Linked DNA regions of Homo sapiens. The protein of the gene in region 1 interacts with the protein of each later gene in a pairwise test. Each region holds a gene or a part of one and is shown on either strand. Other genes may lie near its edges. The genes, in order: CHAT, BAHD1, TSC22D4 and CDS2.

Region 1 (7,802 bases):
TCTCCGGGGAGTGGGCGCGGCACCCAAGAAGGGTTTCTTACAGTTCCAAGAGAGGACCCCAGCCACAGTCACTCCAGAGCCCACCCGGGGCTTGGAGGAGGCTCTGGAAAATGAGGGATGGGGGAGTGTGCAGAACAGGGGGCGGAGGCTGGCAGGAGCCGAGGGAGGGCTTGGTCGGGTGCGAAGAGTGCCTGGGAGGAGTTAGAGTGGGGAGGGGGTGCGGCGGCGGGGAGAGAAGAGGCGGAGCTGGGGGACCAGACCGCTAAAGGAGAAAGGGGGATTCCAGGCAAGGGGAATGTGGCCAGGCAGTGCGGGAGGGCGGCAGCGGCCAGGCTAATATTCGCGACCCCGACTGGGGCGCGGCAACTTCTGCCCTCAGTCCCCACAAGCTCCCGGCCGCGATTCGCGGCCGAGAAATTCTGCGGAGGGGCCGGTGGGTCAGAGCCAGGCCAGGCAGTTGCTGAGCCTTCCCCTCCCCTCCTGGCGGGAGTGTGTGTGCAAGGGGCCAGGGGGCGGAGTCGGAGAAAGGGTTGGGGGTGTCCGTGTCCAGCGCTCCTCCGGACGCGGCTCCACAATCCAGCTGCGAGAACAGATGGACGCAGCGGCGGCTCACCTCGGGGGCTTCCTGCTCGCTGTGCGCCGAGGTCCAGGCTGAAGCGGAGATCGCAAGCCTCTGGCTCCCGCCTCTCCCAAGGGGCCTCGAGGAACCGGCTGCCGCGCCCCCTTCCCCAAGAGGAGAAGAGCGGGCGCTGACCCCGCGAGTCCTAGAACCGCGGGCGGGGGGCAGGCAGGGGGCGGGGGGCAGAGGGCCAGCTACCGGCGCGGAACGCCCATCCCAGGGGCTGGTTCAAGACTTCCACACCGAGAGCCCTTCCTGGGCCTCCAGCCCTGGAGCATCTGGAGAGCGGACCCCTGCCCGGCCACGCCCCGCCCCCGGCCCCCGCCCCGCCGACGTCGCATTAGCATGAGCGACGTAAGTGGCCCGGGCACCACTCGGGGGCTGGGACTCGCCGCGTCACAGCCCCGAGTGGAAGGGAAAAAAAAAGAGGAGGCGGCGGAGGAGGCAAGAGCCGACGCGAGGGGAGGGGAGCGCAGCGGCGGGGCTAACGGGCGGGCAAGCGGGCGGGCGGCAACAGCATGTCCCTCGGCCAGCGCGGGCGGCCTCTTAGCGCGGCGGGGGCTGCTCTGGGCGCGCCCCGGGCGAAGTGCGCCCAGTCTCCGGCCCCGGCCCCTCGGCGCGCCCGACTTCCCGGCCGCCCCTGAGCCCAGCAGCCGCGGGTCCCGGGATCGGCTAAGAGTAGCTGCAACGCCTCGCCGGACGGAGTCCTTTCCTTTCCCGGGACGCTGGGCCATGAGCTCCGCGGCCACCTGAGGCACAGGGGAGTCTGCTCGGCCAGGACAGCCTCCCCGAAGTCCCGTGCCCTCGCCTCTGCACTGCGGGACGCCAGCGCTCGGCCCTGGCGGAGGCGTCCTCGGAAGAGCATCGGGGTGGGGGCATGGAATCCGCGGAACCTGCGGGCCAGGCCCGGGCGGCGGCCACCAAGCTGTCGGAGGCTGTGGGCGCGGCGCTGCAGGAGCCCCGGCGGCAGAGGCGCCTGGTGCTTGTTATCGTGTGCGTGGCGCTGTTACTGGACAACATGCTGTACATGGTCATCGTGCCCATAGTGCCCGACTACATCGCCCACATGCGCGGGGGCGGCGAGGGCCCCACCCGGACTCCCGAGGTGTGGGAGCCCACCCTGCCGCTGCCCACTCCGGCCAATGCCAGCGCCTACACGGCCAACACCTCGGCGTCCCCGACAGCTGCGTGGCCAGCGGGCTCAGCCCTTCGGCCCCGCTACCCTACGGAGAGCGAAGACGTGAAGATCGGGGTGCTGTTTGCTTCCAAGGCTATCCTGCAGCTGCTAGTGAACCCCTTGAGCGGGCCCTTCATCGACCGCATGAGCTACGACGTGCCGCTGCTGATCGGCCTGGGCGTCATGTTCGCCTCTACAGTCCTGTTCGCCTTCGCCGAGGACTACGCCACGCTGTTCGCGGCGCGCAGCCTGCAGGGCCTGGGCTCAGCCTTCGCCGACACGTCTGGCATAGCCATGATCGCCGATAAGTACCCGGAGGAGCCGGAGCGCAGTCGTGCACTGGGCGTGGCGCTGGCCTTCATTAGCTTCGGAAGCCTAGTGGCCCCGCCCTTCGGGGGCATCCTCTATGAGTTCGCCGGCAAGCGCGTGCCCTTCTTGGTGCTAGCTGCCGTGTCGCTCTTTGACGCGCTGTTGCTGCTGGCAGTGGCCAAACCCTTCTCGGCGGCTGCACGGGCTCGGGCCAACCTGCCAGTGGGCACTCCCATCCACCGCCTCATGCTAGACCCCTACATTGCCGTGGTGGCCGGCGCGCTCACCACCTGTAACATTCCCCTCGCCTTCCTCGAACCCACCATTGCCACGTGGATGAAGCATACGATGGCGGCTTCCGAGTGGGAGATGGGCATGGCCTGGCTGCCGGCCTTCGTGCCTCATGTGCTGGGCGTCTACCTCACCGTGCGCCTGGCGGCGCGCTACCCACACCTGCAGTGGCTGTACGGCGCGCTTGGGCTGGCTGTGATCGGCGCCAGCTCGTGCATCGTGCCCGCCTGCCGCTCCTTCGCGCCGCTAGTGGTCTCACTATGCGGCCTCTGTTTTGGCATAGCCCTAGTCGACACAGCACTGCTGCCCACGCTCGCCTTCCTGGTGGACGTGCGCCATGTCTCAGTCTATGGCAGCGTCTACGCCATCGCCGACATCTCCTATTCGGTGGCCTACGCGCTCGGGCCCATAGTGGCAGGCCACATTGTGCACTCGCTGGGCTTTGAGCAGCTCAGCCTTGGCATGGGACTGGCCAACCTGCTCTATGCTCCCGTCTTGCTGCTGCTCCGCAACGTGGGCCTCCTGACGCGCTCCCGTTCCGAGCGCGATGTGCTGCTTGATGAGCCACCGCAAGGTCTGTACGATGCGGTGCGCCTGCGTGAGCGTCCTGTGTCTGGCCAGGACGGCGAGCCTCGCAGCCCGCCTGGCCCTTTTGATGCGTGCGAGGACGACTACAACTACTACTACACCCGCAGCTAGCATCCCCACTCCTCCTCCAGCCCACCCAACCGCCTTGGGTCAAGGGGGCTGCTCTGCAAGCCCACTGGCCAGCTCTGGCTCAGGGCCCACCTCCTCCAGCGAGTACCCCAGCCACTCCTCAACCTTGACTTCTGCCCAAATCCCCTCCCTGTGACCCGTTCCATATCCCTTTCTCTCTTGTCCAATGGGGCTTGGAGCACCGAGGCCAGCGAAGCCATCGCGCTCCTTGCGGAGGTGAAGAGGACCCTGAGTCCCCACCTGCGGCTCCCCTGTGTAGAGCCTGCATCTGTCTGTCCTTCCTTCCATTGCTCCCAGTGCCAAACTTGGGCCGCTGCACCGCGGCGCCTCCGCCCAAATCAATAAACTGTGTCTGTCCCAGGAGGCCGAGTCTCTTTACTGGTGGGGGGTGCGTGGAGGCGCGCAGGGCCAGAGCAGAGGGGAGGGTGAACTGGGTCTCCAAGTCCCAATCCAGACCTAAGCCAAACTAACACGTAGGCACCTGTAGCTGTTTTTCTACCTGGAAAAGGGGATAGGAAGGAAGCAAACCCAACAAAGGCTGTCACCCACGGTCACCAAGGAGCACCATGCTCCCCTCAGCCCAGGATAGACCCTCTTTTCCAGGCCTAGCGCAGAGCCCGGGGATGCCGCCCGGGGGAGCCTGAGGACCCGCTCCAGCTAGGCACGCCAGGCCCCGCCCTTTGAGGACACGCCCCACACCAGCCTCAGAGCTCTGAGGTGCCTGGGCTGAGCTTCCCTTCAGACCAGAATCCCGCCCCGTTGAGGCTTTGAGAAAGGAGTAGGAGCCGAGCATTCCGGCAGAGGAAGAAAAACGGCCCATCTTTTAGAGTCCGACCTCTGGAAATGTGTGTATGATGTGATGTGTGTGTTCATTAGAGAACTTGTCCTAGGAGGAGTGGGGGAGCCGTGGTTGGTGTTTGCTGTATCCCTGTCAGTCCCGAGGGTCTGAGTCTTGAAGGGAGAGATGCGAGTGTGGGATCTGGTGCCAACCCCCACTGCCACCCTGTCCTGAGTGGGAGCAGCGGCCCAGGACTGTCAGGAAAGTTTCCCATCCTTAGTCCCAGCCCTGAGAGCCTCAAGCCAGCGTTCGCGCAACACTCCATGTCCCGAAGACCGTAGTCTGATGATCGAGGCAGAGTCTTCCCATCATAGCGTGAAGAGGCGGCTGGTCAGGGTCGCCTGTGTGTTAGCTGCGCCTGTGAGGGTCTGCTCTGCTGTTGTGCGCATGTCTGTCCTCGATCTGCGAGTCGGGCTGTGTGTGCCTGGGCGGAGTCTGCCTTTGTCGGTCTGTCTGTGCTATTTCTGTGTGGGGGTCTCTATCTGGGGTGGGGGATGCTTTTGTCTGAGAGGAGAGCCTGCCTCTTGCCGCAGTCCTTAAGCATCCTCAGGTCTGCCATCAGGATTGTCCCAAGTCTGTAGCACCCCACCTCTGCTCCCCACCCCATAGTGCCAGCAGGAATGGGATGGTAACAGAAAGGGAAGTCCTGCAGTGAATATTGATCCCAGTTATTGTTTCTTATTATTATTTTGAAAGATGGTGTAGCAGGGTTTGAGACTGGCCTGGATGGTGGGGAGAGGAGGGCAGCGAGCAGAGACTTCCTCAGACCCAACCCTCTCCAGGATTCAGCAGCAGCACCCCAAGGCTGGAATAATGGGGTTGGGGAAGTGCGGTGACTGGGAAATGCTGAGCTAGGGGCAGGAGGCATGGGCGGGACAGTGTTCTGTGCCCCCTTCTAGAGCCTAAATTTGTTGCCCGAGTTCCTCCGGGAAGCGCTCCGGGTAGATTCTGGGGGCCGGGAGCTGAGATCCCTGGGCGGGGAGCTGGGGAAGGGATGGGGCTGAGGACAGCGAAGAAGAGGGGGCTTGGGGGAGGGGGGAAATGGAAGAGAGAGGAGGGAGGAGGTACAAGAGGAAGGAGAGAAGTGCGGCCAGCTTGCTTTCTCCAGTCGGGTGGCCGCGGGGACCCGGGCGACGTCGGAGGCCCTGCCGGGAACCCAGGCTGCAGCCCCCACCCCCGCGCTGCGACACGCCCCCCACCCCTTCCGGCTCACACCCCCGCCCACACTCCTGAGTGGTGCGGTGCAGCGTCGGCCGAGGCAGCAGAGCCGAGGAGAGCAGGTGAGAAGAAGGGCTGGGCTGGGCTGGCGGAGCGCGGTGCCGGGAGCAAGGGCGGCGGTCGGGGGCTCTATCCAGGGACAGCACCGGGGCCGAGAGGCCCCAGGACTCGTGGAGTCCTCTGAGTCCTGCGCAGCAGCGGCCGTCGGGGGTCAGCTAGGAAGCTGCAGGATTGCGTTGCTTCGGTGCCTGGGCTTGGGGAGGCTTAACCATCAGGGCTTCGGGACTCCAAGCGCATGTTCTCACTTCACTTGGCCCAGCATCTGCTAAGTGACCAGGTCCGCGCTTTCTGTGTCTAGTCGGAGGGTCCTTGGGTCTGACCCGACTCGCCTGAATTGCTGGTTGGCAACCGCTTCTCCCGGGAGCAGGGGGTGGGGAAGGAGGAGCAGTGGCTGGTGGCAAGTCTGAGCCAGGACATAGCCGATGACAGCCTGTGAATGACCGGCCAGACTGGGGTTGGACCTTCGGGGCAGAGCAGGCAGCCCTTGGAAAGCCAGGCTGGCAGGAGCATGGGTGGGAGGCACAAAACACAAACAGACATATATACACATACATCCTCTAGGCATCTGCCCAGGAGTGATGGAGGAAGAAGAGTTGGTAGGTGGGACCACCAGGAAACCATCCCACCCAGCTCTGCCTTCTTCAAGCTCAGGGTCCCTGAAGCCTGACTAGTGTCTCCCGAATGGGGGGGAGGGGGGGGCTCTGGGCCAGAGCAAAAGGAGGCATTGGCTGCATGGTCTGTAGGGCCTTTACCAACCTGACCTTGTCCTTGCTGTCCTCTCAAAAGACTGCCATGCTCCGGTGAATCCTCACCAGGACGCCACCTCTTTCACTTTGCAGTTGGGGGCAGCCCCTACGAACCCACAGCACTGGGAGGCGTGGGAACAAGCCTGTGGAGAGTGTCCCTGCACTGTGCCAGCAAGGGCTTTACATTCTCTGCCCAGCACTGCAAGGCAGCCCCAGGCTCCTCCATCCTTGGGCCTGGTTCATCCATCTTTCTGGACTCTCTGTTCCTGGCAACAACCCTGCCAGGTGCCCATACATGGGCGGTGCTTGCCTCTGGGTAGGGGTGGTGTTGGGTGGGGAGAGGGGTGAGGAAATTAGCTAAACCTCAGCTTTAGACTTGAGAGAATAGAGGGTGGGCTGGTGGAAAACATGAGTATGTGCCTGTGGAGGCTTAGGTTCAGGGGGATCTCAGAGGGTAGCAATTGTGACCCACAGCCTAATAATAACAGTCTTTGCCCTCTTGGCCTGGCTCACTTCTACTGTACCTTCAAAATTAATCTGCCTCTCCCCAGACTAAGGCAGGTGGCCCCTAGGGGCCCTGGCTGCCCAGCCTCCCTGCATACCTCCCTGGGCACTCCTATGGCATCTACACTGGCAGCCTGCAGACCCGAGACTGCCTAGGTCACAACGCCTCCAGCAGGCCCAGAGTCTCCCTGCCCTGGCCACAGGCCAGGCTCCCAATTAGCCCAGATGCATCCTGGAGCACAGGGCCTTAAAGGCCTCCATTCACCCACGCATGCATTCCTTTCCCTCCACCAACGGAGTGAGGGAATTCACCCTACTCCACACCAGAGATGTGGCCGGAATGCAGAGATGAAGCACTGAGCACAGTAGGTATGGTCTTACCCTTGAGAAGCTAGTGGGAAAGAGAGAGTTTGATTGGCAAAGCACTTATCTATTGGGTTCCAGGCAGGAACAAAGGCAGCACTCTGCCAGCAACCCCTGGTGGATTTGGATTGCCCCAGGGTGGTCAGCTGGCCTTGGGTGACAACAGACTCATGAGAGCAGACCCTCACTTTAGGAACCACTCTCTCCCATATGGGGGCCCAGAGAGAACACTGTGGTCAGCACGTACAGGTGGAAGTAGAGACTGGGGCCACGCCTGCAATGAGACCCCTATACACAGCTGTCAGGCTCTGGCCTCCTCATGGGGCTGGGGTGGGGGTCTGTTGGCGGGAGGTGGAGGGTTTGTGACAGGCCTATGTGGCTGCTGTGTTGATGCTTCCCACTTCTTGGTCCCCAGGTCCACACCTCTGCATCCCTGCACCAGGACTCACCAAGACGCCCATCCTGGAAAAGGTCCCCCGTAAGATGGCAGCAAAAACTCCCAGCAGTGAGGAGTCTGTGAGTGACTTTTGGAGCCCTCTCTCAACCCTGCTTTCCCCACCTACATGCCCTTGCTTCTAGAACAGTCCTGAGTGGGACTGGCCCCCAGCATTTGCCTGGCCCCAGCCCTGCCCTCTACTGGCACAAGGCCCAGGCTACAGCTCCACCCCCAGCTTGCTGAGGATCCCAGAAGGGCCTGGAGGGGCTGAGACGGGCCTCAGGGTGCCAAGGAAATGCTAAGAGCTTAACTTCCAAATCCCCTGGCCAGGCTAGGCCCTATCTTTCCTTCCAGGGCCTCTCTTCATCCCAGCTTCCACTTCTGATAGCTTTGAGCCCAGTGATTTTGCCTTAGGGTGGGGCTGAATTCCTACTCCAAGCCCTGCAAGTCCCAGCTCCAGCTGCTATCACTAGTTCAGCCTTGGAGCCTTAGGCACCATGTTCTCCACTGGCCTGAGACAATGC
Region 2 (7,239 bases), on another chromosome or scaffold:
CCCACCACTTGACGGTAGTCGGGGGTGTGGGCGGGGTGAGAAGGACCCCGGGGACACTCCGATTAGGTCTGGAGACAGCCTGAAATAGGGTGTAGCCCGCAGTTGTTGGGGCTGCGGAGGAGGCGACTGGGGTGAGGGGCAGAGAATGCACCCCAAGAGAAAGGCATAGGGCCCCAAAGAGGGTAGGAGACGGGATTCAGAGAGCGGGAAGGAGAATGCAGAAACAGCTTTTACGGGGAGAGGCAGACTGCAAAGACGTCCCCTGGCCGGCAATCTGGAGGCTAGCGCTGGGCAGATGGGGGTTTTGGACACAGCGCCATGGACATGTGTTCCCCAAAGTCTGAGCGCATGCAGCCCCCTTGTTCCTTCTTGTGCGGAGACTGAGTCCCACACAGTCCCTACCTCACCGGGACCTCCCCACCCCCAAGGCCGGGGCCGTAGTTGCCTTCAGGGGAGGGAGAGGTCCTGTTCCTCACTGGGCACTCAACAGCTGGCTCCTTGGTGGTAGGAGGGTACCTTGCCCCTCCAGCTCAAGAGTCAGGAGGAGCACTTCTACCTCCTCATCCCTAGGGAAGAGGGCCCCCGCAGGTAAAGACCAGACTTCTGCACTAGGATTTGCCTGGGGGGCAAATAATTTCTGGAGATCCCTTTAAGGAGGGGTGTTCCAATCCCTTTAAGAGGGAGTGGGTCACAGCAAAAGGACTATAAAAGTCCAGCTTTCTTTATTCCCCCACCCCCCAGGGGCTTCCTATGATGGGGGAGGGGGCAAGTGCTGCTGCCGCATTTAATTGTTGCCTTGGTGTCCCTCCCCCAAAGAGCTGTGCCCTTCAGTTCGTCCAGTGGGGCTGAGGAGCCGGGTGGCTCAGTAAGTATTGTGGGGACCTAGACTTCAGGTGCTCTGGGGGTTGGGACAGGGGCTGCCCCACTTCCAGGAAAGAAGGTGGGACCTGGGCAGGGGCTGGAGGGAGGAGAAAGTGGTCACTGCCACCACTGCAGGGACTGCACTGCCGTTGGGGTGCCCTGCCTGGTGCCAGGTGGTTGGATCTCAGGCCAGGCGGTCTTCGGGGACTGCAGCGGGCAGTGGCGGGGAGGTGCTGGGGCTGGGCTGGAGATGACCGAGCAGCCAGTCTGTCCCGGCTGTCAGTCTGGTTGTGTGTGGTGGGGGAAGGGTGCGCCGCGTGGTCTCTCTGGCCCTGGATGTTTTACTCTAGGGCATCTCCCTCTGAGGCAGTTAACCCTTCCCGATGGGTCTGGAGGTGTCTGGGGAGAGAGAGCCCCTGCCTGGCAGCAGCCCGGGAAAGACTCCGGAGACCCGATGGACCCATTCCTCTTTCTACACCAAGTGCCAAACCCTTTTTTCAGTGGGAGACCTCTGGGCTGCCAAACATACCAGGGAGAGGAAAGGTGATGGGCCCCAGGCGTTGGCACAGCTGCCCAGTGAAGTGGGGTGGAGGCAGCATTCACTCAGGAAAGGTTACAGGACCGAAGGAAGGAGGAAGAGGTGGAGCCCTTTCCAGCTGTGGAAGGGCTTTGGACTGGGAAAGAAGGAGGCCCAGTTGCAGAGGTCCCTGAAAGTTGGGTGAAGGAGGCTAGGAGAGGCCAAAAGTTCCCTTTGGGGGACAGGCAGGGTGTAGCCCCTGCCTATTCTTTGCTGGCTTGTTTTAACAAGCAATAGGGAGGAAGGGGGGACAGAGGTGGCTCAGTGAGCTGGCACAGGAGGAACACTTAGTGCCTTTAGCCAGCCCGTGTCCCCGCACCATAGCCCACTCAGTCAGAGCCTCCTGGGGCAGCGGACACCGCCACCCACACTGGAGGCTCTGAGGGGAGAACTCCTCCAGCGGCCAGGCAGGCACTTGGTGGGCTGTCATGACTACTCTGCCTCCTCTCCGGTTGGTATTCCTTCCTTTCCCTCCCACTGAGACCCCAGATAAGACAACACTCCCCTGCTCACCCCAGGGCCCTCTAATGCCAACACCAGGAAGACACCCAATCCTGCCACCTCGTCCTGCTGCCATTTCCTCGGCTGAACGTGGGCTTCCTGCCACTTAGGTCTCCTTCCCTGCCACCAGGTACATTCCTCTTCTGGCCCTCCCGGCCTCCATCCCTGCCCATTATCAGGCCTGAAGTGGCTGCCAAGGTCAGCGCCGCCTGGGCTGCAGACAGGAGCCCGGCCTCTCTTCTGTCTTGGCCTGTAGCATGGCTCTGCCCCCGTGGCCACCACTGCTGTACCCTCCACCACCAATCTCTGACGAGTGGGGGCCACCGTGGGGTTAATTTGCCTATGGGCCAGACTGGGACAGGGAGAGGGGGAATTCTGTGAGGTGGGGAGTAGGGCTGGCCTGGTGTGTGTTGGGGGGGCGCTGCCGGGAACCTCTGTCCTGTCCAGGAAGGGGAGAAATCTTTCAGCGTCCTACTTTTACAGCTTTGGGGTTTTGCTTTCCCCAAGGGTGGGAGGTGGGAGAAGTGGCAGTGGGAGAACCTGGACCTTCGAGACATTTCCGTGCCACAGTTTTAGCTTTTAGCTTCCATTCACACACTTTCCCTGCTGAGGGGGCCCCTCCTTTAAGTGTGTCCCCCCAAACAGCTAAGACAGTCTGGGCCCCCTGGACAGCTCTGGAGGCAGATGGGGAACTGCTTCTGGGGGAGGTTGTTTCCCAGCCATATTGGCTAGCAGCCCTGATTGTCTTAAAAGGCTGCCTGGGTGAGCGCTGGAGTCCCAAGGTCTAGGAAAGGCTGGGCGCTGTGTGTGGTGCAGGAGGAGCCCCTCCGAAGCCCCTGGGCCACACTCCAAGGCTGGGTTTTCCTTGCTTGCCTGGGCAGCCTCAGCACTCTGGGTGCCTCTCTCTGCCCAAGGCGTTCCTGGGGCCCAGCCCCTCCCTGGGCTGCTCCAGCGCTCTGGTGACTTGACACTACCCTTTCTGCCGCTGCTCCTTTTACCTCCTAAAGCTCCCCTCCCCCGCCTGAATTGGGAATGAGGCTTTGTTCAGGGGTGAACTCAGCATTTCTCGAGAACCTACTGTGTGCATATCCCGGGCTTAGTGAAGTCCTAGGCGGGCTCTGGCACCACCAGGTGCCCAAGACACAGCTCCTTCCCGCACCTAACAGGGACTTCCCATCTCTCTCTGTGCCCTTAGCCTGCTGTGCCCACCCACCCCACTGACCCCGCGAGCGTGCTCGGGCTTGGGAGGGCACGTCTGTGGGGGTGAGAGACGGAGCCACAGCATTTGGTGACTAGGGGGAAGCCAGGTAAGTGTCTACACTTGGTTCTCCCGTAGCTTGGGGACGCGAGGGAGGGAGTCCAGCCGCTCCTGTCAGGCTGCCCGCCCCTTTCTCCCTCCCCCGGAGAGCTCTGATGTTCCCCGCGGTGGTGGAAGAGGGTGTGTGGGTGTCAAGGACTCACAGACCAGGCTCTGCTGTCAGCTGGAAATGGATGAGGGCTCCACACTCTGCTTCTGAAGAGGGTGAATTAGGAGCTGGGGTTGGGGGCGGTAGGTGAAGGGCAGAAAGAGGAAAAAGAGATGCGGGTGAGGGGTTACCGAGCCAGGACCGACCTTGCTGGAAAGGAAAGGAGACGTGGCAGGCAGGGAAGTCGGAAAGATGAGGCAAGGGCGGGAGGGGCTTCTCAGCAGTCGGGGCCCTTTTGCAGGAGTCTGGGGCCCTTTCTGCAGGAAAGGGGGGTTGTTCTCGCTTGATTTTCGGCTGGTCTTCCTGAAGCTTTGCCCTGGGGGCAGCAGCCTCCGGCGAGGATGGGGTGTTCCTCGGCCCGCAGTTTTCTCCAGCGCGTGCTGGGGAGGATTTGGGGGAAAGGGGATGCGGAGGGGTGATGGCCAGGGCGGGGGGAGATAAGATTTTTCCGGGGGGGCTAGCAGCTGGGAGATTGGGGTCGAGTCACCGTGGGATACGGGCTCAGGTTCTGAAGACGAAGAGAAAAATCCAAGAAGCCGGCAAAGAAAATCACCCCTTGCCACCACCCTTGGCACGGCACCCCTCCCCCAAGGCCCCACCACTCCCCGCACCGCCTCCCCCGGCCGCCTCGTGCTGCCCCCTGCGTTGGGACGACCGACCCACGGTTCTGATTGGTCAGAGACCGGGAGGGGGAGCCGAGGGCCGGATTGGCTGGCGGAGCCAGCGCAGGGCGGGGCGGCTGATTGGCGGAGCTGGCCGAGGGGCGCGCTGCTGATTGGCTGGGGACGAGGAAGCAGGAAGGAGGGCGGCGGAGGCTCCGCTCTCGGGGAGTTTGTGGGGGAACCGCGAGCGGCGTAGCGGATCCCGGAGCCCGGCCCCCGCCGCCCGCCCGTCCGGCTGCCTGCCCCGCCCGTCCGGCCCCCGCCGTCCGCCCGCCCCGGCCAGGCGCGCCCGCCCCCCCCGACGGCCCCGCCCGGCCGCGGTCCCCGCTCCGCCCGCCCGGCCCCGGCCCCCAGGAGGAGGCGCTGACGCAGCAGCGTGGAGCCCGGGAATTGAGCGCCCCCGGGGGGTTCCAGCCGCCGGATTCCAGCCCGGCCGGGGCCTGCGGGCGCCCAGAGCCGCGCCGTCCGCGCCGCCCGTTCTGGTGAGTCAGGGGCCGGGGTCGAGGAGGGGGAAGGGGCGAGCTGGAGGGAGGGAGCGAGCGAGGTAGGCAGAAGAGCGAAGGGGGAGAGCACCGGCCGCCCGTCAGCGCGCCCCACCGAGCGCGCCGCGCCACCGCCCCCGCCAGCCCGGGAAGGGACGGACGGACGGACGACGCGAAGCAGGTGCGGCCGCCCGCCCGCTCGCGCCACCTCCCTCCCCTGGGTCCGGCACCACGGTCCCGCCATCGGGGAACGCGGCGCGCCTCGAGGTGACAGCCCCCGGGGGCCGCCCGCCTTGCAGGCCGGGGGCGGGGTGGGTGGCGGCCGCAGGGTGGCAGCTCGGCCGGGCGGCGGCGGCGCGGGCGTCCCGAGCTGCGGAGGGCGGGAGGACGCCGGTCTTTCCTCGCCGCGGCGGAGCCGGCTCGCCTCCGAGTGCGCGGGCGGCGAGGCCCCCGCCGCGCCCCCTCCCCCATCGCGGTCCCCGAGGCAAGGGGCCGCGGCCGGGGGCGGCGCCGCGGGATCGCCCGCTCAGGGTGGGGGGCGCCCTCCCGCGCTGGGAGCTGACCGGTTATTGCTGGATGGGGGGCAGGGGATGAGGGCCGCGCCGGGCCGGGGGCGGCAGGGGGGAGTAGTGTAGACCCGACTCGATCGGGCTGAGAGGAAGGGAGGCGCCGAAGACGGAAGGGGACCGGTTCGAAAAGCGAGTGTGGGCCGCGGGAGGCCCTGCGGGGACCTTGCGGGGCGGCGGCCGAGTCCGAGGTGTGGCGGGGGGAATCGAAGTTGTCAGACCGCCTCCAAGTGACAGCGGGACCCTGTGCTCGCGGCCCGGCCTGGTCTTGCCCTGCTCGCTCCGCCGCCTCTCTTCTGGGGCTGGGGGCCGGGTCAGGTCGGGCCCGAGGGGCTCGCTTGGCGGTGAAGCGCCGGACAAAGGCGGCGCCGGAGCGGGCGCAGGTGGTGGCGTCGGGGAGGGGAGCGGGTCCGAGGCACCCACTCCGAGGGGCGGGCGACGGGGCCGGACTCTGCCCCGGGGACTGCGGGGGCCGGGGCGCCCGCCGGGAGGAGCTGCGGCACTGGCTTGCCGCTCTAGCCGCTCGCTGTTGGCCTCGAGGCTCTGGGAAGTGGGGTCTACTTGCCGGGGGCCGAGGGGCCGGGGTGGGGGTGTATGCTCATGATGTGCCTTGGCTGGTGGCGACGGGGTTGCTACTCACCGAGGCGACAGACCCAGTGAGCCGCTGTAGAGCCTGTCAAGAATGAGGGGTTTTTCAACAAGCAGAGTCTGCCTACAGGCAGAAGTCTAACCCCACCTGGGACATCTCCTAGTCGCCCATTGTCGACAGTGTTAGAAGTGCAGAAGACTAGTTTGATTAGGACAAGAGACACCCCACCCCGTGGGCTCCCGCCAGCCCTCCGCAGCTGCCTCCAGCACTTTTCCTTAGCCACAAAGGTACCCACTTAGAAAAATGAGAAGCTGAGTTTATAAATCCAGGCAGGAATTTAATAATGAAATAAAAAGCTTTCCAGTCCTTTTACTTTGTGCCACCTGAGACTTTCCTCCCTACTCTCTTCACCTCGCTGTCTTCCACAAAAAAAAAGAAAAAGGGCCCAGAGGGACCACATGTCTTGGAGGGGCACCACTGTCCTTGGCCAGCTTGGAGGATGCTTAGGAACCACTGGCTTAAGCTGTGAGTGCCTCCATCTCCCCCGGTGACCAGCTGTGAGCTGGATGTTGTTTACCTGCTTGGAAAAACTCATTCAGAGCTCCCATGCCCTCCATGTGAACCCCACACCCAAAAGAAGAGTTGGGATCATAAGGACAGGGAAACTCAGGCTGTTTCAGAATGTGGATTTTGCTGAGAATCTGAGTTCGAGTCCCACCTCAGGTAGGGCTGGTTAGAAGCCGCTCTCAACTGTGGTTGGCTGTAATCCCACCTGGGAAAGCTGCTTGTCTGCCACTTCAGAGGGTAGCATGGGCATGGGAGTTTATTCATGGCCACCCCCCATGGACCTCCCTGGAATGATCTAGACCCCAGCCTGGATGGAGCTGAGGCTTGTGAGAAAGGTAGGTATTACCTCACTCAGGAGGCTAAAGTTTGTTCTGAGATAATTTAATTGCATGTCTAAAATCCAGAGAGTGATGATGAATCTCAAGGCCTTTGTGCCTTCTGTGAGGCTACACGGCATGTGATTTCTTTTGGTGGCAGTCAGAAGGGGATGACGTGGTCTGGCCACTGGAATATGAAGGGGAGTTGCCCAAATAGCATTTCCCTCTTTGGTAGGGCTCTTACCTGGCAGGAGACTCATGCCAGTCGGATCTGGTGTTAAGGAGGGTTTGCTCCGGAGAGTTTAGCCAGTGATTAGGTTCTTTTTGATATCTCCCTCTCTTTCTTCCTTTCTGTTGTCCTGCTGTCCCCGTGTCAGGCCTGTGTTGTTGTTATAGCCTCCCTTTCCCTCCTGCTTCCTTTGGCCCTTCTGATCCAGTCTGTATGCAGCTACCAGGTCATTCTTCCTAAAACACCCCTTCCCGGTGTCACTCCCTTTCTCACAGACTTGCAATGGCTCCCCGTTCCCTGCAGTCTGACCCTAGACAGTGTCCCCTCCAGCTCTTCCCTAGCCATACCATGCACATTTTTTCTTCCTGCATCTTCACTGCTGCCGCTCCCCTTCCTTTACTCCCACTTGAATCCCACTTGTC
Region 3 (7,690 bases), on another chromosome or scaffold:
GCCCCGCCTCCGGGTCCGCCCCCAGACCCGCCCCCGGCCCCAAACCCACCCTTCCACACCCTCCAAGGACGGAACGGGAGCGGCCGTGCGGCGCGGGGCCGTGGGGCTGGGGCGCGGGGCGGGGGAGCCGCGGAGCCTGCGGGGGCAGATTCGGAGGAAGGTCGTGGGGCGCTGGGGGCCCGGCGCCAGCCCGTCGCGGTCTTTGGGCGTCCGCTCCTCGCCGCCCCTCGCCCCCTGCCCGGCCGGTCGGTGCTGAGTTCGGTCTCCCCGGCCCCGGCGGAGCGGCGTGCGGCGGCGCCCCCCAGCGGCAGCCTGGGGCCCACGCCCCCGCACCGTGTACCCCGTGCACCCCGTGCAACCCGTACGCCCGGCGCGCCCCGGGTCCGCACCCAGCGTCGGTCCGGGGCCGAGGCTGCGGCTGCGGGGCCCGGGGTGCAGTGAGGCGCTGGGGCCGCCAGGGGGTGCCGCTTTCCGGGCCGAGGGGCTCCGAGGGTGGGGAACGGGACGGGCGGCGGCTCAGCCCAGCAGGGGGCGTGCTCCGGCGGCCGCGCCCCCTTTCCCCACCGCCCCCAGGTGCCAGGAGAGCACCTGAGTTGGCTCGCGGGGGAATCGGCTGCCTCCCCCTGCAGCCTCCCGGGGGTGCCCGGATCTCGTTCCACCGTCTGGGCTCAAAGCTATCCGCCCCCGTGGCCCGAGTCCTCCTCTCGTGACCTTTGACTCCCCCGGCGCCGCTCGCAACGACCAGGGTCGACCTGAGTGTGGCCACCGCGGCTACCACCCTGGCACTGTCGGGGGGCCGCTACGGGACGTGACCTCGACCTCCCCTTTTCTCATTTATCTTTTCTTTTCTCATTATCTCCCCTAGAAATAACTCCCTCTGAAATCCCTTGGGCTCACAGCTCTGCAGCGGGGGTAAATCAGCTCGAGAAGACCTCGGTTGTACCTTCCACGGGCTGGAAAATGGGCACGGCAAAGATAGGCACGGCCTGATCCCTGGAGCCTGCGAATGCTACTTTCCATGGCAGCGTCTTTGCAGTCTTGCTGTGTGGCTTTAGGCAGATCGTGCAACCTCTCTGAGAGACGCTTTAGTCCGGGGATGTCCACTCTTTTAACTTCCCTGGGCCACATTGGAAGAAGAATTTGTCTTGGGCCACACATAAAATACTCTTAACACTGGCGGGGCGCGGTGGCTCACGCCTGTAAATCCCAGCACTTTGTGAGGCCGAGGCTGGTGGATCACCTGACATCAGAAGTTTGAGACCAGCCTGGCCAACGTGGCAAAACCCCGTGTCTACTAAAGATAGAAAAAATAAGCTGGGCATGGTGGCCTGCGCCTGTAATCCCAGCTACTCGGGAGGCCAAGGCAGGAGAATCGCTTGACCTGGAAGGCAGAGGTTGACGTGAGCCCAGATCGGGCCACTGCACTCCAGCCTGGGTGAGAGAGAGAGACTTTGTCTCAGAGAAAAAAAAAAAAAAAACGAAAACAAAAACAAAAACCAAAACTTAGGCGTTTTAAGAAAATTTACCAATTTGTCTTGGGCCACAAGCTGCCCGTGCGGTTGGACAAGCTGGCTTTAGTCCATTCTTTGGAAGGGGAGGGGTAGTAAAATAATACCAAAGTGCCTTGTAAATTGTAAAAGGTCCCACATATTATAGGCTATTAAGAATGCTCCCAGGGGAGGGAAATATTAAAACACTTAAAACCCATTTCACATTTATACCTTTAGTATGATTAGTTTATATGTATAGGCCGGGAGCAGTGGCTCACGTCTGTAATCCCAGCACTTTGGGAGTCTGAGGCATGCAGATCACTTGAGGTCAGGAGTTCGAGACCAGCCTGGCCAACATGATGAGACGCCCATCTCTACTAAAACTACAAAAATTAGCCAGGCGTCGTGGCGGGTGCCTACAATCCTGGCTACTCGGGAGGCTGAGGCAGGAGAATCACAACCTGGGAGGCGGAGGTTCAGTGAGCTGAGATCACGCCACTGCACTTCAGCTTGGGTGACAGAGCAAGACTTCATCTCAAATTAAAATATAAAAATTTGTATGTATTTACTCAACAAACATTTCTGCAGAGATCAACAATGTGCCAGGGCCTCTAGACTCAGATACCAGTGCCTGAGGCAGAGAAAGAGACTGCCCAAAGATAATTTTTGAATAGTTTGTAGCAAGTCAGCAAGAAGGAAGGAGGGTCTGGGGAAGGAGGGACCAAGGCTGTGTTCTGAATGTTGCTAGAGGAGAAAAGGTTCTGTAAGGGACAGAGGGATGCAGTCTAGAGGGGTAGGGAGCAGGTGGGAGGCTGCTTCCCAGACTTCACTACTTGGGAGGCCCACAGACTTGGGCTATGGCAGCCGTTGTTACTATGGCTTAAGGGAGAGAAACAGAAGTGTGGATGCTTCTAACAAAGAGATAAAGAATAAATACATAAAGAGGGTAGGTATTGCATTGTTTTATTTTTACGTACCCCTAAAGAGGGGTTAGAGGCCGGGCGTGGTGGCTTATGCCTGTAATCCCAGCACTTTGGGAGGCCGAGGCGGGCGGATCACGAGGTCAGGAGATCAAGACCATCCTGGCTAACACGGGGAAACCCCGTCTCTAGTAAAAATACAAAAAATTAGCCGGGCATGGTGGCGGGTGCCTGTAGTCCCAGCTACAGGCTGAGGCAGGAGAATGGCGTGAACCCGGGAGGTGGAGCTTGCAGTGAGCCGAGATAGAGCCACTGCACTCCAGCCTGGGCGACAGAGCGAGACTCCGTCTCAAAAAAAGAGGGGTTAGAAATTTCCCTGAGGCCAGGCACCATGGCTCACGCCTGTAATGTCAGCTCTTTGGGAGGCCCAGGTGGAAGTATCATTTGAGGCCAGGAATTCGAGACCAGCCTGGGCAACATAGTAATAACCTGTCTCTACAAAAACTAAAAAATTAGCCAGGTATGGTGGTATACACCTGTGGTCCCAGCTACTAGGGAGGCAGAAGCAGGAGGATCACTTGAGGCCGGGAGTTCAAGACCACCCTGGGCAACATTGCAAGATCCCCATCTCTACCAAAAAAAAAAATTTTTTTTTAAAGAAATTTAGCCAGGCGTAGTAGTGTGTGTCTGTGGTCCCAGCTACTTGGGAGGCTGAGGCAGGAGCATGGCTTGAGCCCAGGAGTTCCAGGCTGTGGTGAGCTATGATCGCACCACTGCACTCCATCCTGGGCAACAGAGAGAGAGAGAGACCCTGTCTCTAAAAAAAAAGGCGGGGGCAGGTTGGGGGAAAGGGGAATAGTATAACATCTAGGATCTGATTTCAAATAGTCCAGCAAACTACAGCTGGCCCCCACACAATGTCATTTCATTGAATGTCATTTCATTATAACATTGATGATTTTCTAAAAATTGATTTTGGGCTGGGACCACCATCTGTGTGGAGTTTGCATGGTCTCCCCATGTCTGCATGGCATGTTTGAAAATTTTCATAATAATCCACTTTTTTTTTTTTTTTGAGACATGGTCTCACTCTGTTGCCCAGGCTGGAGTGCAGTGGCACAATCTTGGCTCACTGCATCCTCAACCTCCTGGGCTCAAGAGATCCTCCTGCCTCACAGCCTCCTGAGTAGCTGGGACTACAGGTATACATCACCACACTCAGTTTTTTTTTTTTTTTAAGATGGAGTCTCACTCTGTCACCAGGCTGGAGTGCAGTGGCGTGATCTCGACTCACTGCAACCTCCGCCTCCCAGGTTGAAGTGATTCTCCTGCCTCAGCCTCCCGAGTAGCTGGGACTACAGGTGCCCGCCACCACACCTGGCTAATTTTTGTATTTTAAGTAGAGACTTGGTTTCACCATGTTGGCCAGGATGGTCTTAATCTCTTGACCTCGTGATCCGCCCGCCTCGGCCTCCCAAAGTGCTAATTTTTTAAATTTTTTGTAGAGATGGGGATCTCGTTATATTGCCCAGGCTGGTCACGAACTCCTGGGCTCAAGCGATCCTCCCACCTTTGAGTAGCTGGAATTATAGGTGCACATCACCATGCCCAGCTATTTTTTTTTATTTTTTGTAGAGATGGGGTCTTGCTATTATATTGTCCAAACTGGTCTCAAGCGATCCTCCTTCCTCGACCTCCCAAAGTGCGGAGATTACAGGCATGAGCCACCACCGGGATCCGGCAATAATCCACTTTTAAAAATAAGGAATGGGGGGAATAATGCAGTTGCTGTGAAAACCAAAGGAGAATGACAGTAACAGCCACAGCTGCCCCACAGCAGGGACTGGGAACTTCTGGGTGGGCATGCAGCACACCTCCCGGCCTGTGCCTTCCGTCTCTTCTGTGTGTCTCTAGGCCAATGGCAGCAATTGACTACAAGTAAGGGAATCCCTCGCCTCCCTGCAAGCTCCTCCCCTTTCTCCCCGAGCCCCGCCCCCTGCAGCCCCTCCCTGCAAGAGTGGGGCTAGGGCCCGGCAGGTGTGGGGTTAAGGGAGTCTGTTTGGGGCCCCCAGGAGCAGCAGCCTAAGCAGTGGCTGCAGCAACTGCAACAGCAGCGGCTGTGGCAGGCCTGGCCCCGGGCCAGCTGGCGGGAAGCCCCAGGAGGGAGGGAGGGAGGAGGAAGGGGAGGAAGAGGGGAAGGAGGAGGAGGAGGAGGAGAGGAGCAGTCAGCAGGCCCGAGGAGGCAGGACTTCCTGGTGTGGGGGTTGTCAACAGCCCAGAAAGAGAAAGACGGAGAGGCAGAGACCCAGGGGAGCCGAGGAGCGGAGACACGGACCCAGCAGGGTCACGCGGGAGGAGACTCGGGACACCCACTCGCTGGCTGCCACCGGGAGCAGAGGGGGGCTCGGCCGCCCCCTCCCACATCAGTCTCCAGACCCTTGGGGCTTCAGAGGCCGCTCCTAGGCTCCTCGGAGGAGGCGCGGGTTTCTTCTTTTCCGGAGAGCAAACTTTCCTCGGAGATGCCTGGCAGGATGAGCCGCGGCCCCCGGAGAGGACGGGACAGCCTCTGATCGCCGCCTGCGTGCCCCGCCACTGCCCATGGCCAGGAGGCCCCAGGGAACGGACAGCCCGACCTCTTAGGCGCCGGGACCCTCAGGCTCAGATCAGTGGCCGAGGCCCCAGAGGTAGGGTTCAGGGCTGGGTGGGGCGCTGGGGGGTAGCCGGGCAGGGCCTGCCCCAGAGATGTGGGAGCTGGGGTGAGGGTGGGGGCTCGAGGCCCAGGAGAGGTCTCTCTGAGTGGCCGGGCCAGGCTGGGGAGCTGCTTCAGCCTGGTTCTCCCAGGCCCTGGAGTCCGAGCTCTTGGGACAATACGGGCCCCCTGAGTCAGAATCCCAGGCGAGAAATGCCCAACTCTGGGACTCATCTGCCTCTTTCTACTCTGAGTGCCTTCTTGGATCCAGTCCCCTCTGCCCTGGTCTCTGTCATCTCTTGCCTGTCTCTGGGTCTCTGACGGTTTCCCCTTCCCCCACTCTGCTCCCCGGAGAGGAAGCCCCGGAGGTGGCCTGCCCACTGGTTTCACACACACACACACACACACACACACACACACACACACACACACACACACTCTCTCTCTCTCTCTCTCTCTCTCTCTCCCCCTCTTTTTCCAGTTTGCAAACTCAGCTCTGGAGTTCAGCAGCAACAGCAGCAGGAAAAACCTGCCCCTGCTCCCCCCTCCCGCCACCTCCCCTCTCCTCTTCTCCCCTCACCCAGCAGGCACCCCCGGTTCCCGCCAGGCCCTCCTGCCATGTCGGACCCAGACGTCCCCAGGGGCTCGGATGTCCCCGCCATGTGGCCCCCTTGTTCCAGGGGTGCCTGAGCCCCTTCAAGGAGCCCCAACCCACCCCCAACCTTGGCCCAGCCCTGAGCCCCAGGGACCATGAGCGGGGGCAAGAAGAAGAGTAGTTTCCAAATCACCAGCGTCACCACGGACTATGAGGGCCCTGGGAGCCCAGGGGCTTCGGATCCCCCTACCCCACAGCCCCCAACCGGGCCCCCGCCCCGCCTGCCCAATGGGGAGCCCAGCCCCGATCCGGGGGGCAAGGGCACCCCCCGGAATGGCTCCCCACCACCTGGGGCCCCTTCCTCCCGTTTCCGGGTGGTGAAGCTGCCCCACGGCCTGGGAGAGCCTTATCGCCGCGGTCGCTGGACGTGTGTGGATGTTTATGAGCGAGACCTGGAGCCCCACAGCTTCGGCGGACTCCTGGAGGGAATTCGAGGGGCCTCAGGGGGCGCCGGGGGCAGATCTTTGGATTCCAGGTTGGAGCTGGCCAGCCTCGGCCTGGGCGCCCCCACCCCACCGTCAGGCCTGTCTCAGGGCCCCACCTCCTGGCTCCGTCCACCCCCCACCTCTCCTGGACCTCAGGCCCGCTCCTTCACTGGGGGACTGGGCCAGCTGGTGGTGCCCAGCAAAGCCAAGGCAGAGAAACCCCCACTGTCGGCCTCCTCACCCCAGCAGCGCCCCCCAGAGCCTGAGACCGGTGAGAGTGCGGGCACATCCCGGGCTGCCACGCCCCTGCCCTCTCTGAGGGTGGAAGCGGAGGCTGGGGGCTCAGGGGCCAGGACCCCTCCACTGTCCCGGAGGAAAGCTGTAGACATGCGGCTGCGGATGGAGTTGGGTGCTCCAGAAGAGATGGGGCAGGTAAGACCTGGGTTCTAGGGCTGGCCCATCAGCCCTGGCCTAACCTCTATCTTGAGCCTCCTTCCTCCTCCTCCCCCCCCTCTCCTCCTCCTTCTCCATCACTTTATAAGATCAGATAGCCCTCTTCTCTGTGCCTGCCAGGTCACTCTGAAGCCCCTTCCTCCTACTTCATTTTCTGTCTCAGCCTCCTTCCTGTTTTTCTGCACCCTCTCTCTTTCTCCCTGGCCTCTGATTCTCTGTCTTGGTCTTCATGTAGCCTGTAGCATATGTGGCCCCCTCATCAGGCCTTCTTCTGTCTTGGTCTCAGCCCCTCTGCCTCTAGGTGATGAGGGTGGAGGCCCCAGCTGGATAGCTGGGTAGCTGGGTCCCTAGGGGAGGAGCTGCCAGGATTTGGGGAGGAAAAGTAAAAGGTAGGCCTTGCGCGCTGCCAGTCTCTGCACTGCAGCCCCATCCTGAATGTGGGGGTCTTTCTTTTCCCCCAGCCACCCATCTCAGTCCTGCCTCCAGCTTTGCTGTAAGCCAAGTGTCACTGAGAAATTGGGTGGGGGGAACACCTCTCAGGGACAGGGAGGGGGCCTGCTGGTTGATCCATTTCACCCCCCAGTTGTCTGGCTCACCCCCGTCCATCTGAGCCTCTCTGTGATTGATAACTCGAGGGTGACCACTGTGGAGTGGGAGAGAAGAGCCCCAGAAGGGAGTTCAGTCCCATACTCTTTCTCCTTCCTGTCTCCAAAAGAGGAACAAGCCAGGCTGTGGGGGCAGGATGCCTGGGTCCCCATGGTGGGGGTGAGCAGCCAGAGATAGAAGGTTGGATACTTCTGTCCTGTGGGAGAATATAACACCTCGGAGGTCTGGGGAAAGGCAGGGAGTGTGAGGATGCGAACTCTTTCCCCTTCCTGGCCTTGGGCACAAACCACAGTATAAAAATAACCTGGGACTGGATGTCTGGGTCCTGTCAGGACCGGTCAGGACTGGCTCCCCCCAAACCCCTCCTGGCCTCAAGCTCACATCTCTCGTGATGCCCCCTCCTACCCCCCCTCCCCCAACTCTTCTTGAACTCTTGCATTCAGCACCCACCC
Region 4 (7,017 bases), on another chromosome or scaffold:
GAGCTAGAGGGAAGGAAAGCTGCAACACCTCGGTGTACTCACACGACGTTCACAAAAGCAAGCAGGGCTGGGGGACCCTCCAGGTGTCCTGTGGGTAAAGTGCAGGATGGAGTGAGTCCTGACTCCACCACACTATCCTGGGGAAGCTCCCTGCCTGGTAAGGTGCTCATGACTCTCACCCGAGGTAAGAAGGCTGTTGTGAGAATGTAGGGATACAAGTTGGAAAGCAAAGCAAAAGTCTCTGAATCAGGACTATGCAGTATTCATGAATACATAAACAAATGAGAAGCATAAAACCATGCATGGAAGTGATAAACAGGGAATTCACGACAAGGGAGGGCACACAGTTGCAGTCACATTTTATTTCTGACCAATAAAAAAAAAATGGGTCTAAAGCAAGTGATGCCATTCATGAAGATTTGAATGTACACACGTAAAAATGGTTTCTTGAATCTTGTCTGTGAATAGGAAAGAGAAACATTGTGCTATATGGACACAAGGTGGCAGTGCTCTCCTAGCTACCTGACAAAAAATCCTCATCTCCAGAAAGCATGCAGGAGAAATCAGAAAATAAAACACAAGCTGACCCTCTGGCCTGCCTGCTAGCAGCTCTAGTGCGCACTCAGCTTCGGCTTCCTAGACCCCCCTTCCCCACCCCACCCCCACCAAGTAACCACTTCCACAAAGGAACATGATGAGCCTTGCCCAGTATGCTCGGCTCCCTGATCCCAAAGGCAGCCCTATTCAAGAGCAGGTCTCTGCAGCCAGGCCCCAGCTGAGACTCCCTCCTCTCAAGGAGCCCACCATATGCCCACAATGGGACAAAAGAGACAAATGAGGAGCCCTTTCGGTATCTAGTTTGGTGATCCAGGTTCATTCTTCAATCTGAAAACTACAGTTTCGTTATTGATCACCTTTACTGTTCGGGTGTGCTGCTGAGATACCTACTCACCTTAAGGATAAGCATGTAAGGGCCTGAAAACACTTCCTGTTTGGGGGGTGCCCAGGACCTCACTTAATGAGCCTCTACCGGCATGAACTTGCTCAGCCAGAATCACAGAAGAGTGGAATTGGGAGTAGCTCCGAAAAAGAGGCCCTGGAGAGTGATGCATCCTGCCAGTGACACAGCCAATACTGAAATGAAAGCCCTTGCGATAATATGTTTTGTTTTTAAGGGGCCTTGGACCTGAATAAGAGAAGCCACGAGGCTGAAATGGAAATAAAAGTTCAGCGGAAAGAAGCCGCTTCAGCCCCACACACATATGGGAAGTCACTCAAGGATGTGTGAGCTGAAACATCCCGAGGGCTCCATCCTCTGCTGGACACTCTAGAGACCTGGGCTGACTGTGCACTTTCAGGGAGGCAGTGAGGCTAATTTACAAACAAAAACACCACAAACCAGCACTAGACCAAGGTGCAGAAGCAAATCATTACACCCTCGTTGGCAATGAAAACATCCACGGCACGGAATAGTTTGATATATTTGGGTGCCAAGTTCTCTCTCCCGCACTCCATCACTTGTTGGCCTGACAAAGAACTAATCTGTCTTCCCAAAGTCAATCTCACCCCTGAAATTAGGGAGGGGAAAAAAAATCACAGTTTAAGCAAACAACAACAACGAAAGGTCCCCCAGTACAATACAAACTACATTTAAACTGGTCACATTATATAAAAAGTGTGCATTTAATCTTCAAAATAGTCAAGGCTCTAATCAGGTTAGGTTTTCCATAGTTTTAAGCAGGACTTTGTGGTTTTAGTGAAGAAGTCATGGTGCAATTGAAATCACTGTAAGAAATAAGTGACTTTTAAAACAAACACAGACACACACACTCCTCTTAAGAGTAATATATACACAACACAGCAGCTACATGGGTGTTCAGGCAAAGGGTGCATGAACGAGAAGCCCTCTGCTCCCTGCCCGATGAGAAAGTCCCCAGAAAGGATTCAGCAGCAGCAAGTCTACAGCACAAACATGGATGGCATTGTCCCTGAAAACACACAGTTAGGTGGACCTACAGGAGACATTGGAGCCTAGACATGTGGGAAAGGGCTCAGTTACAGTACATTCTACTGCATACACTTGAAATATTACAGTGTGTTTTTTCTCCAGACTATTATAAATAATTTTTCGTGCTTTCTGAAAAAAATAAAAACTGAAACTTTCAGTCTGCGATGAAGGTGAACCCATCTTATAAAGCAGAGCTTACTTACATTCTGCAGGATTTTGGTGTGGATGCATAGAAGGCTTACCTGGTTAGTAAGCCTCCATTCCTCCGACCTACAGAAGGCAACCCTTCTGCAGCTCCAAGCAGGGATTTCTAGAAAAGACCAGGTGTACAAAACATCTAAGCTGTGCCTCCCACCACAGGTGGGGAAGTCCCCTGATTTGGTCAGACACAGATGAATGTCTGTGTCTGACTGAGCCCAGAAACAGTTCAATTGATGGGGGCTGGAACCACCAAGAAAACACTCCTGACCTGGGCAACACTGTCTTCCAGATTATTAATACTTTTGTTTTAAAAAAATCCAAATGGTTTTACAACCCGTGACTTCTTTCCAACTCAAAGCTGTAGTTTACTTACAACACAAATTCTAAACACATAGACTGTATATACAGATTTTTTGAACCCACAAATAAAAAATACCCTCCAAAAAAAAAAAAAAAAGACAGTGAGTTGAAGCCTCGTCATTGTCTAAGTCACACCAGCTGGGCTTGCCTTGGAGACCTGCCCCTGCTCAGTTCTGTTCCTGTTCTCCTGGCCCTGGGTGGCCCCTACTCGTCCTCTGTGGTGGATGTCAGCATCCCTTTGTCGATCAGATGAGACCGCAGCGTGTTGAAGATGTGGAGCTGCTGATCTGGCCGTAAAGTCAGGAACTGCTGAATCAGTTTGCTTGGGTTAGGGCCTCTGGAACAGAATGTGAAGAAACAGCACTGAGCTAGGGCCCGGAAGCTTCCAGGGCCTGATTATCTGAGTGGCTGCTCTGATCTCTGGATCAGAGAGTTATCTATTAACAGATGACAGGAGGCCTCAGAAAATCTGTAAGCAGAAACAACTGAAAACTGCATTATTTGGGATGCTTTTCACTGGAACTTAGATGCCGCTAAAATTCTAGAATTGCACCGTACTTAAAAATCCACCAACTTGGTTCAGATGGAAAGGTACTATACCTGATAAAACTGGCGATGTATACATTGACAAAGGTGGCCATCAGATACTGGCAGTCAAAGCGATCCATGATGCCTCCATGGCCAGGAATGGTATTGGCAAAGTCCTGTTAGAGGCAGGGGAAGGATGGGTGAACTTGGGCTCAGCCACTAACCAATCCCAGCCTAATGGTCCCACCCCAATGTCAGGCTTCTGTGCTGAGTAGCTGAGGGCAATAGAAGGTGAGAAGTATGAAATCTAATGGTGAGGCTATATTAGGACACAATTTTATTGCATTACAAAATGTTCTTATTTCATTTACTTAATAAAGACAGGAGTCTTGCTATGTTGCTCAGGCTACTTTCTAACTCCTAGCCTCAAGTGATCCTCCCGCCTTGGCCTCTTAAAGTGCTGGGGTTACAGACATGAGCCACTGCCTGGCCCAAAATGTTCTTTTGAAGAAAGATATATTAACAAATAAACTGAAAAACAACGATTGCATTTTCCTGAAAATATTGTTATTAATTAACTCACCTAAATTCAGTGCATGGGTCAAGATCACACATTAAATGCCAGGGTGTACAGCCTAGTATTTTGGAGGGGGCAGGGAAGGGGGAGAAAGGCAGAAGATGGGTGAGGGAGTGAGATGAGAGGAACGTAAGACGGTTTTCCTACTTTGATTTTAAAGGCTCGTTTGAATCCACTTGCGAAGAATCCTCCAAAGGGGCCAATGAGCGAGGCAAAGGTGGAGAGAGCGATGCTGTGAATCTGGAAGGGGTACATCCGGACCGTTTTCTGAGAAGAGTAAATGAAGTAAAAGTTTAGGTGCATACATGCCCAGTGTTACGGTTTGAGTTGTCAACTCATGTTGAAATTTGATCCTCATTGTGGCCTCACTGGGAGGTGATGCCTAGTGGGAGGTGTTTGGGTCACAGGGGCAAATCCCTCATGAATGGCTTGGTGCCTTTCTCCTAGTAGTGAGTTCTGTCAAGAGACTAGATTAGCACTGGCATCCCGAGGGAATGGGTTGTTATGAAGTGATGAAGCCCCTGGTTTTGCCTCTTTGCATGTGTCTGCTTCCACCTTTGACCTTCTCCGCCATGTTACAATGCAGCATAAAAAGCCCTCACCAGAAGCCAGGCAGCAGCCAATGCCACACTTCTCACACTTCTCAGCCTGCAGAAAGAAGCTAAGTAAACCTCTTTTCTTTGTAAATTACCCAGCCCCAAGTGTTCTATCAACACTAGACAGACCAAGACATCCAACCTCGTAACTCTTTATGAAACTAATTATATACATGTAGGTTTTAAATCAATAAGAGGAGTGAATTTTTCCCATTTTGTAAATTTCTAATATCTAAGTTAATGGAAAACATTAAAATATTCTGCATTCAATCTGTTGCAACATGCTGTTTTGGTGGAAGTATATAAAGAAAATCCAGCCGTACGCAGATACATAGTTGAAAAGAGTATTTTAGTCGTAGCCTCAGATGGTTTTGGGTATTCTCTGACACTACACCAGAGCTTGACAAGTAGTCATTTCTTGAATATTAGGTGTGATATGGAATCTAGAATTCTATCAATGGACTTTGTTCTCTCTTACATTAAAATCCATTGGTCTATCTTATACTTGAACGGATCTTTTACCCATGCATGACTATATAACACCATGCATCAGCCATTTAGAAAATAATGGTTCACTGAGTTATGTAAATCTTCCAAATGTAGACACATTTCATTATACCGTGTCAAATATGTTTGTGTTTTTTCTCATGTGATCAACACACACACACACACACACACACACGTACGTTAAGAATCATCACAGACCTCATCAGAAAAGGCTTTTAAGTATTAGGAAGCTGTCAAGTTCACAGTGGCAGGTTAAGCTTTCCAAAATTCTAATTTTCATTTGAAAGCCAAATTTTATCCTTGGTAACAATTACTGTCAGTCATTTTTCTTTTCTTTTTTTTTTTTTTTTTGAGACAGTCTCACTCTGTCACCCAGGCTGGAGTGCAGTGGTGCGATCTTGGCTCACTGCATCCTCCGCCTCCTGGGTTCAAGCAACTCAACCTCCTGAGTAGCTGGTAGCTGGGATTACAGGCACACGCCACCATCCCCAGCTATATTTTTTTGTATTTTTAGTAAAGACGGGGTTTCGCCATGTTACCCAGGCTGGTCTGGAACTCCTGACCTCAAGAGATCTGCCTGCCTCGGCCTTCCAAAGTGCTGGGATTTCAGGTGTGAGCCACTGTGCCTAGCCTCAGTTGTTTTCTTTAAAGTGATAGGCTCACTTCATCCTTTTCAAGAAAAATGTCTGCCAAATACCCAAGTCTGAAAAATTATAATTTGTTGGTTCTTTCCAAGTAAAATTTACTTTCTTTTCTAAAAAAAAAGCAGCTAATTTAGCTCACAACTCAAACAACTGCACACATGCTTTCCCTTTAGGCAAGCACTGTACTACAGTACTTAGCAGAAATGTTTTACACATACTTTCCATTTCAGTAGAGAGTGTTAAAAAGGTGTGTGTACAAAGGTCAAGATTTAACAAAATTAGTAACTTTACTATTTCATAGACATTCATTAGAACTGGCCTGTTTGTACTGTGAGTGTGTGGCATGAGGAACCCACTGCCTTAACGCAGTTTTAACCACTGCTGCTTTTGCGCCGTATCACAGCAAATGTCAACACATTGAAAAAGGAAAATAATGTCATAGTCTAATTATGAAACAGTTGTGACCTCACAGACCCCCCCACCCTACCCCCGCAACTAAAAGGATCCCAGGGCCCTCCAGGGATCCACAGAACACACTTTGAAAACCACTGGTCTAAACAATCTGATGTTGGGGGAAAGCTGTCCTGCCCATACCCTGACCTGGCGTGAGCAATTCTCCTTCATCCTGGGGCTTACAGCTTTGGGAAGGAGGAAGCTAGCTTTTTTCAGAGGGCAGGTGATGGAGGGGGATCTCTCTTTGTAGCCACTGTCCATGGAGGCCGCTCACCCCCTGTGAGTGGCACATACCCAGCCAATGACTGACTGGATCACCCCAGGAATGTTGTACTCCTGCAGGCGAAACAGGTCCGAGGGCTCACAGTCCACAGTGAAGCTGTTGGTGTCATTGTTGTACTCCACAGGGCAGACAAAGCATCTGTACCCGGACATCACATAGGACAGCTGAGGAGGAATAACAGAGAGACCGGCAAGGAAGTAAGTTCCAACCATCCAGCCCAGACACAGGCACCTGGTTTGGCCATGTTCCTGAGGGTGCCTAGTACCCTGCTAACTGCGAGCTATGTGCTCAGAGGTTCATGTTTTACCATACATATTTTACCTCAATTAAAAAAAAAAAAAGAGGCTCATGACCCACCAAGGTTACATACAGGAACCCAAACACCCAGGCCCCGAAAGAATCCGGGAAAACCTGAAGGGACTGGGGCAAAGAACTACAAGAAGACTCTCCCCATTTGGGGAGCTAGGACCACTTTCCTCAAGATCTCTGAAGTCAGTGATAACTGGAGAGAGGCCATGGGGAAGGGGCACAGTGAGAGGCAGATCTCAGGAGGAACAAGGCTGGAAAGCAACAAAGCTGGGCGGTGAGCACTGAAGGGCAGCCAGACAGTGCTGAAGAAGGAGGACTGGCCCAAGGGTCAGAAGCAGAGAATGGTGCTCTGGAAAGGGCAGGAAAATCACCCACCTCTGGGCAAGGCACACATAGGAGAAAAGCTGTGTATCTCATCTTCCCTTGGGTGCACTCACCCTGACCTTGGAACATCAAATGCCTGACAAGAAGGCTACCTGCTGATGTCACCATGCCTGGGCGCGAGAGGGCATAGAAGGTGCTCTCCAACTGCTAGCACCCTGCCTGAAAGC

What was found.
Region 2: the proteins of CHAT (region 1) and BAHD1 interact in binary tests that used the Homo sapiens proteins (3 or more experiments, as listed by UniProt).
Region 3: the proteins of CHAT (region 1) and TSC22D4 interact in binary tests that used the Homo sapiens proteins (3 or more experiments, as listed by UniProt).
Region 4: the proteins of CHAT (region 1) and CDS2 interact in binary tests that used the Homo sapiens proteins (3 or more experiments, as listed by UniProt).

What each region holds. Positions count from the first base shown.
Region 1 is NC_000010.11:49,609,245-49,617,046, forward strand, and holds the start of CHAT (choline O-acetyltransferase), read left to right. Parts: upstream 1-4,792; 5' UTR 4,793-4,945; coding exon 4,946-5,231; intron 5,232-6,778; exon of another isoform or gene 6,779-6,808; coding exon of another isoform or gene 6,809-6,848; intron 6,849-7,257; coding exon 7,258-7,358; intron 7,359-7,802. Other genes in the region: SLC18A3 (vesicular acetylcholine transporter), read left to right, coding at 1,497-3,095. UniProt on the Homo sapiens protein: Catalyzes the reversible synthesis of acetylcholine (ACh) from acetyl CoA and choline at cholinergic synapses.
Region 2 is NC_000015.10:40,436,720-40,443,958, forward strand, and holds the start of BAHD1 (bromo adjacent homology domain-containing 1 protein), read left to right. Parts: upstream 1-4,233; 5' UTR 4,234-4,549; intron 4,550-4,690; exon of another isoform or gene 4,691-4,816; intron 4,817-5,720; exon of another isoform or gene 5,721-6,533; coding exon of another isoform or gene 6,534-6,606; intron 6,607-6,629; exon of another isoform or gene 6,630-7,239.
Region 3 is NC_000007.14:100,476,198-100,483,887, reverse strand, and holds the start of TSC22D4 (TSC22 domain family protein 4), read left to right. Parts: upstream 1-4,673; 5' UTR 4,674-5,094; intron 5,095-5,580; 5' UTR 5,581-5,849; coding exon 5,850-6,611; intron 6,612-7,690. Other genes in the region: TSC22D4-C7ORF61 (uncharacterized protein LOC122198330), read left to right, coding at 5,850-6,611.
Region 4 is NC_000020.11:5,185,991-5,193,007, reverse strand, and holds part of CDS2 (phosphatidate cytidylyltransferase 2), read right to left. Parts: intron 6,322-7,017; coding exon 6,169-6,321; coding exon of another isoform or gene 6,149-6,168; intron 3,942-6,148; coding exon 3,822-3,941; intron 3,274-3,821; coding exon 3,170-3,273; intron 2,907-3,169; coding exon 2,774-2,906; 3' UTR 1-2,773. UniProt on the Homo sapiens protein: Catalyzes the conversion of phosphatidic acid (PA) to CDP-diacylglycerol (CDP-DAG), an essential intermediate in the synthesis of phosphatidylglycerol, cardiolipin and phosphatidylinositol.